4 linked regions of the Homo sapiens genome follow. The protein of the gene in region 1 interacts with the protein of each later gene in a pairwise test. Each region holds a gene or a part of one and is shown in the gene's direction. Other genes may lie near its edges.

Evidence for each region.
Region 2: the proteins of NUDT21 (region 1) and CTNND2 interact in a two-hybrid assay, tested with the Homo sapiens proteins (one large-scale study listed by BioGRID and IntAct).
Region 3: the proteins of NUDT21 (region 1) and SEM1 interact in a two-hybrid assay, tested with the Homo sapiens proteins (one large-scale study listed by BioGRID and IntAct).
Region 4: the proteins of NUDT21 (region 1) and KIFAP3 interact in a two-hybrid assay, tested with the Homo sapiens proteins (one large-scale study listed by BioGRID and IntAct).

What each region holds. Positions count from the first base shown.
Region 1 is NC_000016.10:56,434,333-56,437,832, reverse strand, and holds part of NUDT21 (cleavage and polyadenylation specificity factor subunit 5), read left to right. Parts: intron 1-3,003; coding exon 3,004-3,079; intron 3,080-3,387; coding exon 3,388-3,500. UniProt on the Homo sapiens protein: Component of the cleavage factor Im (CFIm) complex that functions as an activator of the pre-mRNA 3'-end cleavage and polyadenylation processing required for the maturation of pre-mRNA into functional mRNAs.
Region 2 is NC_000005.10:10,974,392-10,977,446, reverse strand, and holds part of CTNND2 (catenin delta-2), read left to right. Parts: intron 1-3,055. UniProt on the Homo sapiens protein: Has a critical role in neuronal development, particularly in the formation and/or maintenance of dendritic spines and synapses. Involved in the regulation of Wnt signaling.
Region 3 is NC_000007.14:96,699,847-96,703,346, reverse strand, and holds part of SEM1 (26S proteasome complex subunit SEM1), read left to right. Parts: intron 1-3,500. UniProt on the Homo sapiens protein: Component of the 26S proteasome, a multiprotein complex involved in the ATP-dependent degradation of ubiquitinated proteins.
Region 4 is NC_000001.11:169,980,696-169,984,195, reverse strand, and holds part of KIFAP3 (kinesin-associated protein 3), read left to right. Parts: intron 1-813; coding exon 814-926; intron 927-1,328; coding exon 1,329-1,494; intron 1,495-2,098; coding exon 2,099-2,224; intron 2,225-3,500. UniProt on the Homo sapiens protein: Involved in tethering the chromosomes to the spindle pole and in chromosome movement. Binds to the tail domain of the KIF3A/KIF3B heterodimer to form a heterotrimeric KIF3 complex and may regulate the membrane binding of this complex.

The sequences.
Region 1 (3,500 bases):
TCTAAAGACTTGACTTTATTCAAAAGAGAGGGTAAGACCAAGACTTGGGTACAGGCAGTTTGAGAGGTGATTCCAGGAAGCAGCAGAATACAGGGGAGAGAGAGACCAGAAGCAGCAGAAGTAAGACAGGGCATGTTATTGATCTTTTTACACCTGTGGGCAACTGGATTTGTTCTGTTAAGGACCAGGAACCATGTAGGGACTCCTATACCCCATTGGATAAGGGTTGCATGAACTCCCTTGCATTTCCATGTTGAGTCTTGAGTGCTTGTTGAGACAGTGGCAGCAAACAGGGAACCCTCTGATACTTTTCAAACATAGCTGCCCCGAAATCAGAGGTAGCGTAATGTGGGGCACACACACACAAAAAGCATGTTTCAGTGACCTTTAAAGTGTCAGTATGACCTTTTGGATTTAAATAATTTGAAATATTTTAATCCATGATAATGAGTGATGATGTTACTGATGCTCAAATATTCCTATTTTTGCTAATGGTGGAACTTCTTAAAGTTGGATCCTGAATTCTTTAGGCAAATTAAAAAGCCCTATGACTTTATAGCTCCTTTACATGACAAGATGTTTCAGGTCAAGCATTGCACAAAATATCAACCAAGCAAAAGATCGTTCTTTTCTCTTGCTTCTGACTCCCTTGTATGGCAGAGGGACAAGAAGATAGGGGCTGTGGAAGCTGATGCTGGTGTTCACTACCTAAGAATTGCCAGGAACACATCTTGGCTTTAAGGAAGAACAATTTCATATGGAAACAGTGAAGTTACTTGTTCAAAGATACATAGTACAGTTATTCTAAACTTTTTTTTGGCTTCCTGAACATGCCTTGATCTAATTGGAAAATGCTTAGTAGTGACCCCAGTGGTTTTCCAGATAACTTTTCTGAATATCTTCACTCATCTCCCCTACCACTGTCCTAGGACAGTTCTCTTCATTCAGTAAGGCCTAGAGTTGGCCCTGGTGGTATTTGACATAAGGTAAGTGTATTGATTTATTTAGGAAGCCTAGAGTATTAGTTAGATGTCAGTGGAAAAGGAGCATATCATCTTCCTATCTCAGTCTTTTTGTATAAAGTACAGTCAACTTAAACATTAAGACCAGAGAAGAAAGGCTTAAAAAAATAGGAACATGTAGCCTTGAGCAGAAGAAATTTGGGGAAATGCTACTCATTTTGTTTGATCATGGTTTGGGAACTTTTATTGTATGTGATCCACAGATCTCTTAGCTTGTGCTATTCAGGCCACTTTCTCTGTGACTGTTAATGTATCTGGTTTTCATGACAGTTTAAGGAACCTCCAAAGCCTGGGACAATTGCCTCAATTCATTGTACCCTAGGGATGGCTCTGATATATAATTATTCTAACTGGAATACTGGTTAGGTGCCAATGAGTAACACAGTGGGAAATAACATAGGCTTTTATAATTAGATAAGAGTTGAATAGATACAGTTAAATCTTGGCTTCACAACTTGGCTGAGTAATCTTGGGAAAGATACTTAGCCTCTCTTAGCATGTGATTCTGTGTAAATTGAGGATGATGCTAATACCTCCTTTTGGCAGCTTCTGCTTTTATCTCACTTTCCCCTTATATCTGTTTTCAGCAATTTTAAATTCCCCAGCTCTCAGATACAACTCCAACAGCAAAAGTAGATTTCTGAATGTATTGTGGAGAGATTTATACAAGAATTGTATAACCCTTAGACTTTTTTTTTGTTCTGTGTCAGAATTTTTCCTTCCCGGGTAGCAACTTCCCTCTCTAATTCTCTTCATCCCTTTAAATTCTCTAAAATATACATATATATTATATATATATTTTTATATTTGTTTCCTCGAGTAATTTGGCTTTGCCCATCTGGCAAAACTTCACTTAGACTGCTCTTCTGGTATTCCTGAAGCATGCACCTTGGCATACGGGGAGGTTTGAGGTTGGGGCTGGAAGGAGGAGCAAGAAGCATCTTGTCAAATGCCTCACAGCTTATATTTGAATTTTTAATGTAAACAGGTCTACAACAGGATTCTAGACTGTTTAACTTACTGATCATATATATATATATATATATATATATATATATATATATATAATTTTTTTTTTTTTTTGGGAGACAGAGTCTCACTCTGTTGCCCAGGCTGGAGTGCAGTGGCATAGTCTCGGCTCACTGCAAGCTCTGCCTCCCAGGTTCACGCCATTCTCCTGCCTCAGCCTCCCGAGTAGCTGGGACTACAGGCGCCCGCCACCACGCCTGGCTAATTTTTTGTATTTTTAGTAGAGACGGGATTTCACTGTGCTAGCCAGGATGGTCTTGATCTCCTGACCTCATGATCCGCCTGCCTTGGCCTCCCAAAGTGCTGCGATTACAGGCGTGAGCCACTGTGCCCAGCCTATATATATATTTTTAAAAAACCAGCTTTTAGGCTGGGCATGGTGGCTGATGCCTGTAATCCCAGCACTTTGGGAGGCCAGAGCAGGTGGATCACCTGAGGTCGGGAGTTCAAGACTAGCCTGGAGAAACCCTGCCTCTACTAAAAATACAAAATTAGCCAGGCATGGTGGCGCATGCCTGTAATCTCAGCTACTCAGGAGGCTGAGGCAGGAGAATCACTTGAACCTGGGAGGCAGAGGTTGTGGTGAGCCGAGATTGCGCCATTGCACTCCAGCCTAGGCAACAAGAGCAAAACTCTGTCTTAAAAAACAAACAAACAAAAAAAAGCTTTTATTAAAGATACTAATTAAAATCGGACTTCATTATGTTTTAAGTATCTCAAGCTATAAATCCTGTGACTACATATTTTATCTCGAATGGTTGACTGGTTTACTGCTTGTTATTTTATATGCATTAAAGCATTTATTTACTAGTGTATCTGTTAGATAAGTCCTGGTAAAGAGGACAGAAAGTAGTATGCTTCTCCCAACAGTTTATACTATACTGGGGAGTAAACATGTAAAGAAATGAAGCCATGGAATACATATTAAAGTTGTATTCATTTGTAATTTCAGTATCCATATATTCCTGCACATATTACAAAGCCTAAGGAACATAAGAAGTTGTTTCTGGTTCAGCTTCAAGAAAAAGGTAAGTTATTTTGTTTTCAAAGGTAGCCATCTAAAAATTCTGTAGAATAATTTCAAGGATACCTCTATTTGTGTTTTCTCAAAGTTCCTTGAACTTTTGGGTTTGTTGTAAAACTAAAGATGTATACCATGCTTTTAGTTTCAAATCTGTGGCTAGGAAATCTACCTTGAAAGACACAACCAAAATGTATTAATGAGAATTATCTTTTTTCTTACACTTTTTATTAAATGTAAAATTGGTAATTTAAAAATGAAATGGAAGCAGTGATTATATAATAACTTATAATAATGAATTCTGTTTTATTTTAGCCTTGTTTGCAGTCCCTAAAAATTACAAGCTGGTAGCTGCACCATTGTTTGAATTGTATGACAATGCACCAGGATATGGACCCATCATTTCTAGTCTCCCTCAGCTGTTGAGC
Region 2 (3,055 bases), on another chromosome or scaffold:
GCATACTTTCCAAACATCCTTTTGAGCTTCTACCAGTCCACCCCATAATTACAAAGAGAAATATCATGTTGAACGGTATCTATCTAGCTGACAACAGGATTTTTGTTCAGGAACTAGAAACAAAGAGCTTTGCTGTTTTGATGACCAATATTTAAATGATAACAAAACCGGAATCTTGAGTTCCTTCCTGGTGTCCTTAGTTCCACTGTCACGTGAGCAGGCCAGTTGTAATTGTCTGCAGAAATGAGGAAGATGAGATCCCAGGAGGATACGTGTTTCCTTCAGTCCCCCAGCCAGGAAGAGGCAAATACTCATCTTGGTTCTTCTGTCTTCCTGTCCCATTTTTTTTACCTCTGTGCCAATGGTTCTCAAATTGGAGCATGAGCCAGAATTCCCCAAAGGGCTGTTAAAGCACAGATTGCTGGGGCCCATCGCCAGAGGCCCTGATTCAGTAGGTCTGGAGTGGGACCCAGTAATCTGCATTTCTAACAAGTTCCCAGGTGATGCTGATGCTGCTGGTCTTGGGATTATGCTTTGAAGACCACTGATACTTCATATCTGGCCTCCTTCATTTTCTGTGAACACTCTGAGTCTTTCTATGAACACTCTGAGACATGGAAAAGTTGGAAGAGCTATACTGGGCTACTATTTCCCTTGTGTTCAAAATAAATCCAGTTTCCTGGCAAATTCATTAAGGAATAAACCCAAAGAAGTCTTTTGTCATTATGCTAACAGAGTTGGAAGGTGTCATGACACTATCCTTCATAATTTAGAGTGAATATTCTACTGTTGAGGAAAAAGTTCAGCAAAGATGACTTGGTAGAAACAGAAGCCATGGAACAGAGCGCAGAGAGCGTGAGCATATTGACCCTGGAGTGAGCTGCTGGTCACCACCCCTTTCCAAAACAAGATGCAGCGTTAAGGCAAAGAAGGCAAAAGCTTCGGGCTTGCGTATTCCTGGGCTTCTCTAGACCGTAACAGACACCCAGATTCAGAAATCCCCTCTGCTCTATTGGGGCATCATTCTACATCCCTCATCCAAATCTGGCTGATGCAAACTGTGCAATTTTTAATGCATTTATTTTTAGCTCTTATGTGAGGAGGGCTTTGGGAGGGGTCATTTCATCAGCCAGATTTTCAACTGTCAGATATTCCCTTAAAGTTTAAAATGCAGCCAATATTCCTCCACTGTGGATGTGTTTCACCAGCAAACGTCCATACCACAAGAGCAAATACCACAAGACGTCCATACCACAAGAGCAAATACCACAAGATACCACAAGAGCAAATACCACAGAAATGTCCATACCACAAGAGCAAATACCACAGTGAGCAAATTCTGTCTCTCCGGGTGCAGCAGTGACACGTGTCACCTGTGACAGTTCATTTGTACACACTTTTGGGACTGGGGCACCAAACCTCAGAAGTGATTGGTGTGGGATTTTATGAACAGTACAGATGAATGAAGAAGTTAATTCTCTGGGGTAAGAGGCTGAAAAAGCTGATACCCAGCTCCCAAATGTTCACCAACCAGAGAGAACATGACAACAGTCAAAGCAATTTGAACGAGGTTGTGCAAAAGAACCAAAAAAATGAAAGCAGAAGCCACTTTGGAGGAGAGCTATAACCCTTGTGAGTGACTCCTCCTGAAGATGTCCCTGTCCCCTGCACTGCCTTCCCTGGCCCCCAAAAATCCATAAGAAAACACACCGCTTCTTGGTCTCTTTTGTCCACCGACTTTCTTATCTTAGAGCCTAGAGTCAGCTCCTTGAGGCCTGTCCTCCAAGGTTTGGCCACCTTGGCTCTGATGGGACTGGACTACGTTGGTAGAACACCTGGGTTTTAGAGTCAGCCAGCCGTATGTTCCAGTTCCAGTTCACAACACCACTAGCTATGACGTTTTGGAGAAGTTTCTTAACTTCTCTGTGCTTCAGTTTTCTCATCTATAAGGTGGGAGTTTGCTTGAGGGATGGATGGATGGATGGATTGGTGGGTGGATAGGAAGACAGACAGATGATAGATTATAGATATTGATGTAGACAGACACAAACACACATAAATATTTATGACTACTGGAGTATTAAAGAATTTGCTAAATGTTGAATAGGGTGCCCTGCTGAACAAGAAACACAGCAAATCTAGTTCCCTCCCTGTATAATTTTTCCAAACTTCTAGATTCTGAGCCTTTGCATGTCTTGCACTTGGAAAACAGCCCTGTGTTGGAGTGGAGTTCAGCAGCACACAAGCAGAGCTCTTCAAAGAATAGCAAAGGGCACCCCAACCTAGCAACGCAGTCCAGTAGACCTGGACTTAGCAGTATTTAATTGCAGATGTTGCACATTCATTCCAAATGTTCCTCTCATCCTTTGTTAGCTCTCAGGCTAACAAAGGTTTATCCTCTATGGACTTTTGGACTTCTGTAGGTAGACAGAAACCTCATTCATTCAGCTACCACTAACTAGACACGTGGGACATCCTAGACAGCTGCTGTGATGAAGTTCACCACTTCTTTGAAGATCAGGTTGATTACTAGTATAAATCAATGACATATATAAGAGGGAGTTTCACTTACTTGAGAGAAGAATTATGTGTAAGCCTTTAAAAGCATTCATTTACACACAACGTGCTAATTACAAATCATTATCTATTAACTAAGACCAATTTCTAGAGAACGTTTCCGTGCTGAACTTTAGTTAAATTAATAGGGAGTCACTGAGTCCACCCAAAAGTGATCAAACAGTATTTCTTTAAGAGTGTTTAATAATTCACACCAGATCTCCTCCCCAATTACTGCACATTAGCAGAGCTTTGTGCATCCCGGTATGCACTTGCTGTAGGGTTAACCTCACCCTATACCTTGGGAGGTTCTGCTCATTTCAGGGGCAGGTGCTTGAAAAGGGACCCCAGGGACTAGAACAGATACAAATGCACCAATGTTTATTGCAACATTATTTACAGCAGCTAAAAGGTAAAAATAACCCAAGCGTCCATCAATGGATGAATGGATAAATAAAATGTGGTCTATGCATACCATGGACTATTTTATTCTTATATA
Region 3 (3,500 bases), on another chromosome or scaffold:
ATGTGTATTTCCTACAAGGACATAGTCACAAGACAACCATCAAAATCAGGAAATTAACGCACTGATGCATTACTATAGGTTGAGCATCCCAAATCTGAAATCCTCCGGAATCTCAAACTTTCTGAGTACCAACATGAAATTTCAGATTAGGGGATTTGGGATGCCCAGTTGTAAATATATAATGCAAGTATTTCAAAATTCAAAAAAATACAAAATTTGAAACACTTCTGGTCTCAAGCATTTTGAATAAGGGATACTCAACCTGTATGATCTAACCCACAGATCACTTTCAGCTTTCTCCCATTGTCTCAATAATGTCTTACTATAGAGTCCTGGATTACATTATCTTGTCCTGTCTCTTTAGTCTTCCTTAGTCTAGAGCATTTCCTGTTTGTCTTTAACTTTAATGATTTTCACACTTTAGAAGACTACAGGCCAGATATTTTGTAGAATGTTCCTCACCTGTGCCTATTTCCTCATGATAGAAGTTCTACATTGTAGTCCTGGTGCTCTGTTCTAATGACATCTTTTTAGGTGGAACATTATTCTCATTTGTTCCATTACTGGGGATGTTCACTTCAATCACTATTAAGGTGGTGTTTGTTAGGCCTTTCCATTGTTAGGTTACTAATTTTCCCTTCCTAATAGGCAGTTTTGGGGGAGGGACTTTGAAACTATGTAAATACAGTATTCCAGTGATCATCAAACTTGTAACTTGTTCATCTTTTAAAAAATGTATAGCAGTGTGGACTAGTGGATTCTGACTCAGTAGGTTATAATTTGTAACTATTATTTGGATTCTCAGATTGTCCCATATTTGAACATGCAGAACTCCTTCAGGCTGTCTTCTGTGTCCTTTTGCCATGTCTCCATTATTCTTTGTGCATTTCCTAGCATTCTGGCACAAGGTGTATTCCAAACTAATTTTATATGTGAAATCAGCCGTTGCTCCAATGTGATTTCTTTTTAGTGGAGAATGGTATTTAGAATGCAGGGTCTTCACTTTGCTTATGTTTATTGCATTTGGGATATTCCTGCTCCCAGACCCTCTAAGTGGAAGGAACTAGGGATGTACAGGAGTGTGTGTGTGTGTGTATGTATAAAACCATGGGTTCACACAGATGTCTCCAATTGCAGTTCAACACCACTGGATTCATTCTAGTTTTTTCCCTTTCTACATTTGTTATTCCCTTCTCCAATAGTGAGAAACCTGGCTTCCATTATCTTCAATGTATTGTCTATTTGGTCATCCCCCTTCCTAACCAATCTTTGCTGCCCCCAACAGGTGCCCTTCTTGCCCAACTTGGGCTCCACATTTTATGCCAGGCCACCCTCCCATCCTCTAGTGTGGGTGACTTCGTTCTGTCCAGGCTCTGACACACCAGCCACACCATGCTGCCCCTCTCCAGGAATGCCCTCCTTGCTCTACTTGGGCTTAGACACCTCATCTTAGACCTGGCATATCTTAAATTTTGACAGATACTCTCAAATTGCCTTTGAGAAGGGTTATGCCAATTTATGTTTTCATCTACAGTTCACCTTTTCCCTCATAAGCTTGCTACACTAGATAGTAAACATGTTAGTCATTACTGACCTCATGAATGAAAAATAAAATTGTATCATTTTGATTTGGATTGATTTTTTTAAGTAAGATTAACCATTATGTTTTTCTCTGAGCTGTTACCATCTTAATCCTCAATTTCATTATCTGTAATATATGGCTAATAATATTTATTAGAGTCATGAAAGAATTACATTATTGTAATGGTTGGCCTGGGCTACCATAACAAAATAGCATAGACTGGGTGGCTTAAACATCAGAGATTTATTTTCTCACCCATTCTGGAGGCTGTGGAGTCCAAGATTAAAGTGTAGGTCGATACAGTTCTTGGTGAGGCCACTCTTCCTGCCTTGCACAAGGCTGCCTTTGTGCTGTGTTCTCTTGTGGCAGAATGAAAGAGTGCATGCTCTCTGGTGTCTCTTAAGGCACTAATCCCATCATGGGAGCCCTACCCGCAAGACCTCATTCAATCCTGATTACCTCCCGAATACCATCATATTGAGGATGAGGGCTTCAACATAAGAATTTTTGGGGGGGTTTTGGGGGGCCAGGGTACAAAGATTTAGTCCAGAACAATGATACATATGTAAACAGAGTCTGGCACAAAGTTGGTATTCAGTAAACATTAGTCTCCTTTTTTCTCTCCCCTCTAATGTACTTAGGAGTTTGGATTTTGGATGATGTTTAATATTTATTTAGAATTTGAGCTGTGTCTGACATGTATTTAGTAATTTTGAATATATTCAAAATTAAGCTTGTTAAATTTGTGAATTATTTGATAATTGATTTATTTTGCAGTATTAGAAACTTGTAAATTTAAAAAAATTGCCATTAAATGTTTTTCCACAAGTACTTAATAATGTGGTTATTCATAGAAAGACACATAAAATAGTAACATACATTATTTAGGGGTATATACAGATTGGAATGAAAAACCCCCAAATCAAGATGCTGGTGCTTGGGAAGGGATAGTGAGAGGTGTGAACCAGGATATTAAACACTGAAAAACTCTTTGAAAAACTATTTGGTTAGCTATTTCATTGGTTCTATGGAATGAGCAAGCAGTAAGCAATTGTGGTTTAAGTAGTGTTTAATGTTACTACTTGTTTGTTAAACATTACTCATTGAAAGATGTGATGAACTGCGAAAACATTGAGAGGAAAATAAGTTTCAAAAACTGTATACAGTTGACCCTTTAACAACATGGTTTGAAGTGTGAGGGTCCATTTATACACAGATTTTTTTCAACTAAATGGGAAAAGGAAGTACGATATTCACAGGATATGGAACCCACCTGTAGAGAGGGCTGACTACCACTTGGCTAACCATGGGACCTGAATATACATAGATTTGGGTATACTTGGGCTGTCCTGGAACAAGTACCCCGAGTATACCGAGGGATGAGTGTACTCTTCTTCATAAGTATTTAAAATTTACCAAATATCCTTAATCCTTTGTCTGGTTGTGTACTCTGGTGTACATGTAATGTTTGGTGGAAATTGTATTGTTTATATTCTAGGACATGTTTCTCTACTCACCTCTCTCATCCCACAAATTGCCTTTCCAGTGATTAGCATGTATGTAATAAAGGATTTATTCATTTGACATGTATTTGTTGAGTGTTTCCTATAAATCTGGTACTGAAAAGTACAGAGAGAATGGTATTAGCTGCCATTTATCAGTACTAAGTGCTTTACATACACAGTGTCATTGAGTCTTCATAGCTCTTTGAGGTATAAGTTTTATACCTAGGGATCAGAAAAATTTAATTTACCCAAGGTCACAGTTAATTAGAGGCTGTCTTGAAGCAAATTTGACTTCTATAGATATTTGTCTTTGAACTTAGTAAGTAGTAGTTAAGGGAGAGAAGAATCAGTGGTTTTAACACCAAGCTAGAGTGCTTTAGTATTTTGGAAGTGTTTATCCTGGGGTGGGACTC
Region 4 (3,500 bases), on another chromosome or scaffold:
CCGATAGTTTTTGCCTTATTTGAAAAGTAGTATGTGTTTGTTATAAAAAGCACAAATGAGCAAAAAGGAAAAGATTTAAATCTTTATTTCCTACCATCCACAGATAATCATAGGTAAGATTTTAGTGTAATACTTCTGCATATTTTTAAATAAAAATGTGATTGTCTATATATCATGATACATTCTTTTAAAATTAGTAATATCTTGAAATAATATTTTATGTGATTAAGTGTTTTTATAAAGCATATTTGTTAATAACTGCAAAATTGTCTATTAAAGAATTTTGCCATAGTTTACTTCACTATTATGGATATAGTTCATTGCCACTTATTTTCCGTTACAAACAGTGCTATAGTAATTACCCATTCTCTGAATCTTTACACATTTTCATTTTTATATTGTTAGGATAAATTCCCAGAAGTACAATTTTTCTGAGTCAAAAGTATTTTTGTTTTTAACATTTGTAGTAGATATTGTAGGCACAAAAGAGCACATATGGTATGATTCTATTTATATGAAGTTCTATATCAGGCAAAATTTATATATGTTTAAAAATGAGACAGGGAAGAGGAAAAGTGATTATATCTGGGAAACAGGATTGACTGGGAAGGGGCACAAGTGAACTTTCTGGAGGGAATGAAAATACTCTGTATGTTGATATATGGTATGGGTTGCATCTAAATTAATCAAATTGTACCCTTAAGAGTTATGCATTTTACTAGATGTAAATTGTTGTGGCTTTTTTGAGAACTAAACAAAAAATTATTAAACTTAAGCTAACCTTAATTTTATTGGGGGACTTTTCTGTTTCAGGAAATGGGCTGAAGATGCTCATGAAGAGGGCTCTGAAGTTTAAGGATCCATTGCTGATGAAAATGATTAGAAACATTTCTCAGCATGATGGACCAACTAAAAATCTGTTTATTGTAAGTATCATTTTGGCTTTCTATTCAAATAGACTGGGAATTGAAATTGCTACATTTGGAAATACAGCTCTTACTGAGGTCTCGTCAAATATTAATTTATAATCCAAATTGCTCTTATGTTATCAACTTTGTTAGTTTAGCACCTAGAAATCTCAACCTATGTTTCAATGTTGTTTTTGTTTTGTGACCCTTACCCCTAATCCCTCCACCCCACTACAGTCTTCTTGCCTTAAACCAGTTCACCATAGGCTTCTTTAGCAATTTAGCTCAAGATTATTAAAACAAGAAAATCACATTTGATATTTACTTTTTCTTTCAATGAGTTAAATTGTTAGATTCCTGTGGGTTATTAGATTAAATAAAAAATAATTTAAATTTATATTAAAATTATGTTTTATTCAGGATTATGTTGGGGACCTTGCAGCCCAGATCTCTAATGATGAAGAAGAGGAGTTTGTGATTGAATGTTTGGGAACTCTTGCAAACTTGACCATTCCAGACTTAGACTGGGAATTGGTTCTTAAAGAATATAAGTTGGTTCCATACCTCAAGGATAAACTAAAACCAGGTTTGTGCTAAGTATTTCACTTTTGTATAATCACTAAGTTATTTCTTTCTGTTATGGATAAGGCTGCTAGAGCAGTATTGTGTGACTATTATTATGTTAGGAAAAGCCATTTCTTCTCACAGCTCTCTTCTCCCAGAAAGGTAGTCACTGGATCACCTCTTACATATATGTTCTCTTTTTCCTAAAAGTGTGTTTTCTTATGTTAGTTTCTATTTCCTATTCTACCTTTCTTGTGGTCTTTTGGTATTTTTTTATTCTGTCTCTTTAAAATTACCAAATACCATCCCTCTGCATATACATAAACACGCACAAAGGTCTTTGAGGCATTCAAATGAGTCTTTTATTTTCTGTGTCTATGTTGTCATTCAGTTGTACTCTCAAAGGCTCATTTCCACTTTTCTACTGCCCCCTGCCCCCACTATCACAAACTGTCATCAGCAAACATGGAAATTTGGAAAAAGGACAAATTTATAGCATATCAAGGATTCATATGACTTGATTTAATAGCTTTCAGTATCCTTTCTGTGTATTTACATTTTGATACTCTAAATGAATTTGGATCAGGACATTTCAGTGAAAACTTTCTATGGTTTGACTTCACTAGGTGCTGCAGAAGATGATCTTGTTTTAGAAGTGGTTATAATGATTGGAACTGTATCCATGGATGACTCTTGTGCTGCATTGCTAGCCAAATCTGGCATAATCCCTGCACTCATTGAATTGCTAAATGGTAAATAACCTTAATTTATTTTTATGTTAATGTCTAAACAGCTTATTGATTTAAATATTTAAATATAAAATGCAGAGTCTGTAATCTGTTTTTCTCATTACATTAATTGTTTCATAGCAACTTATATAATCAAGAAAAATGAATTAAATATACTGCTAACTGGGATTGGATAGAGTAATATCAAAGATCTTTAGCTTTCAAAGTTAAGAATGTTGCTGTAAAGCAGTTCAGGACCAATTTTACAGAAGTACTCTCCTCACCAACCTTGAACAACCAATATAGTAGTCACAACTTAATCAAGGGGAATACATTCCAAGACCCCCAGCAGATGCCTGAAACTACAGATACTATCAAACCCTATATATACTTTTTTTTTCTAAACATACCAATGATAAAGTTTAATTTATAAATTAGGCACAGTAAGAGATTAACAACCATAATTAATAATAAAACAGAAAAATTATAACAGTATGCTTAGCATCACTACTCTTATACTTTGGAGCCATTATTAAATGAAATAAGGGTTACTTGAATACAAGCATTGCAATACTATGCTAGTGGACCTGATAACTGAGATGGCTACTAAGGGACTAATGGGCAGGTGGCATGTACATCCTGGATACACTGGACAAAGGGATGATTCATGTCTTGGATGGGATGGAGTGGAACAGTGGGAAATTACATCACACTATTCAGAATTGTGCATAATTTAAAACTTATGAATTATTTCTAGGATTTTTCATTTAATATTTTTGACCATGGTTGACTGCAGTTAACTAAAACCATGGAAAGAAAAACCACAGATAAGGGAGGACCACTGTATTATATCACTTCTTTTTGTTTGTTTGTTTGTTTTTGTTTTGACTTTTTGAGACATAGTTTTGCTCTTGTTGCCCAGGCTGGAGTGCAATGGCATGATCTCGGCTCACCACAACCTCCGCCTCCCGGGTTCAAGCGATTCTCCTGCCTCAGCCTCCTGAGTAGCTGGGATTACAGGCATGCGCCACCACACCCAGCTAATTTTGTATTTTTAGTAGAAATGGGGTTTCTCCATGTTGGTCAGGCTGGTCTTGAACTCCCGACCTCAGGTGATCCGCCCACCTCGGCCTCCCAAAGTGCTGAGATTACAGGCGTGAGCCACTGTGCCCGGCTATATCACTTCTTTCTGTTGAGATTTGTGTTGGTTTGAATTGGATCTCTTCTCTTGTGCAAATCTTATTTTTTAAAACTTGATTTCTAAGTTGGAAGGTCCATTTGGAAGCTGATTCTAAACATC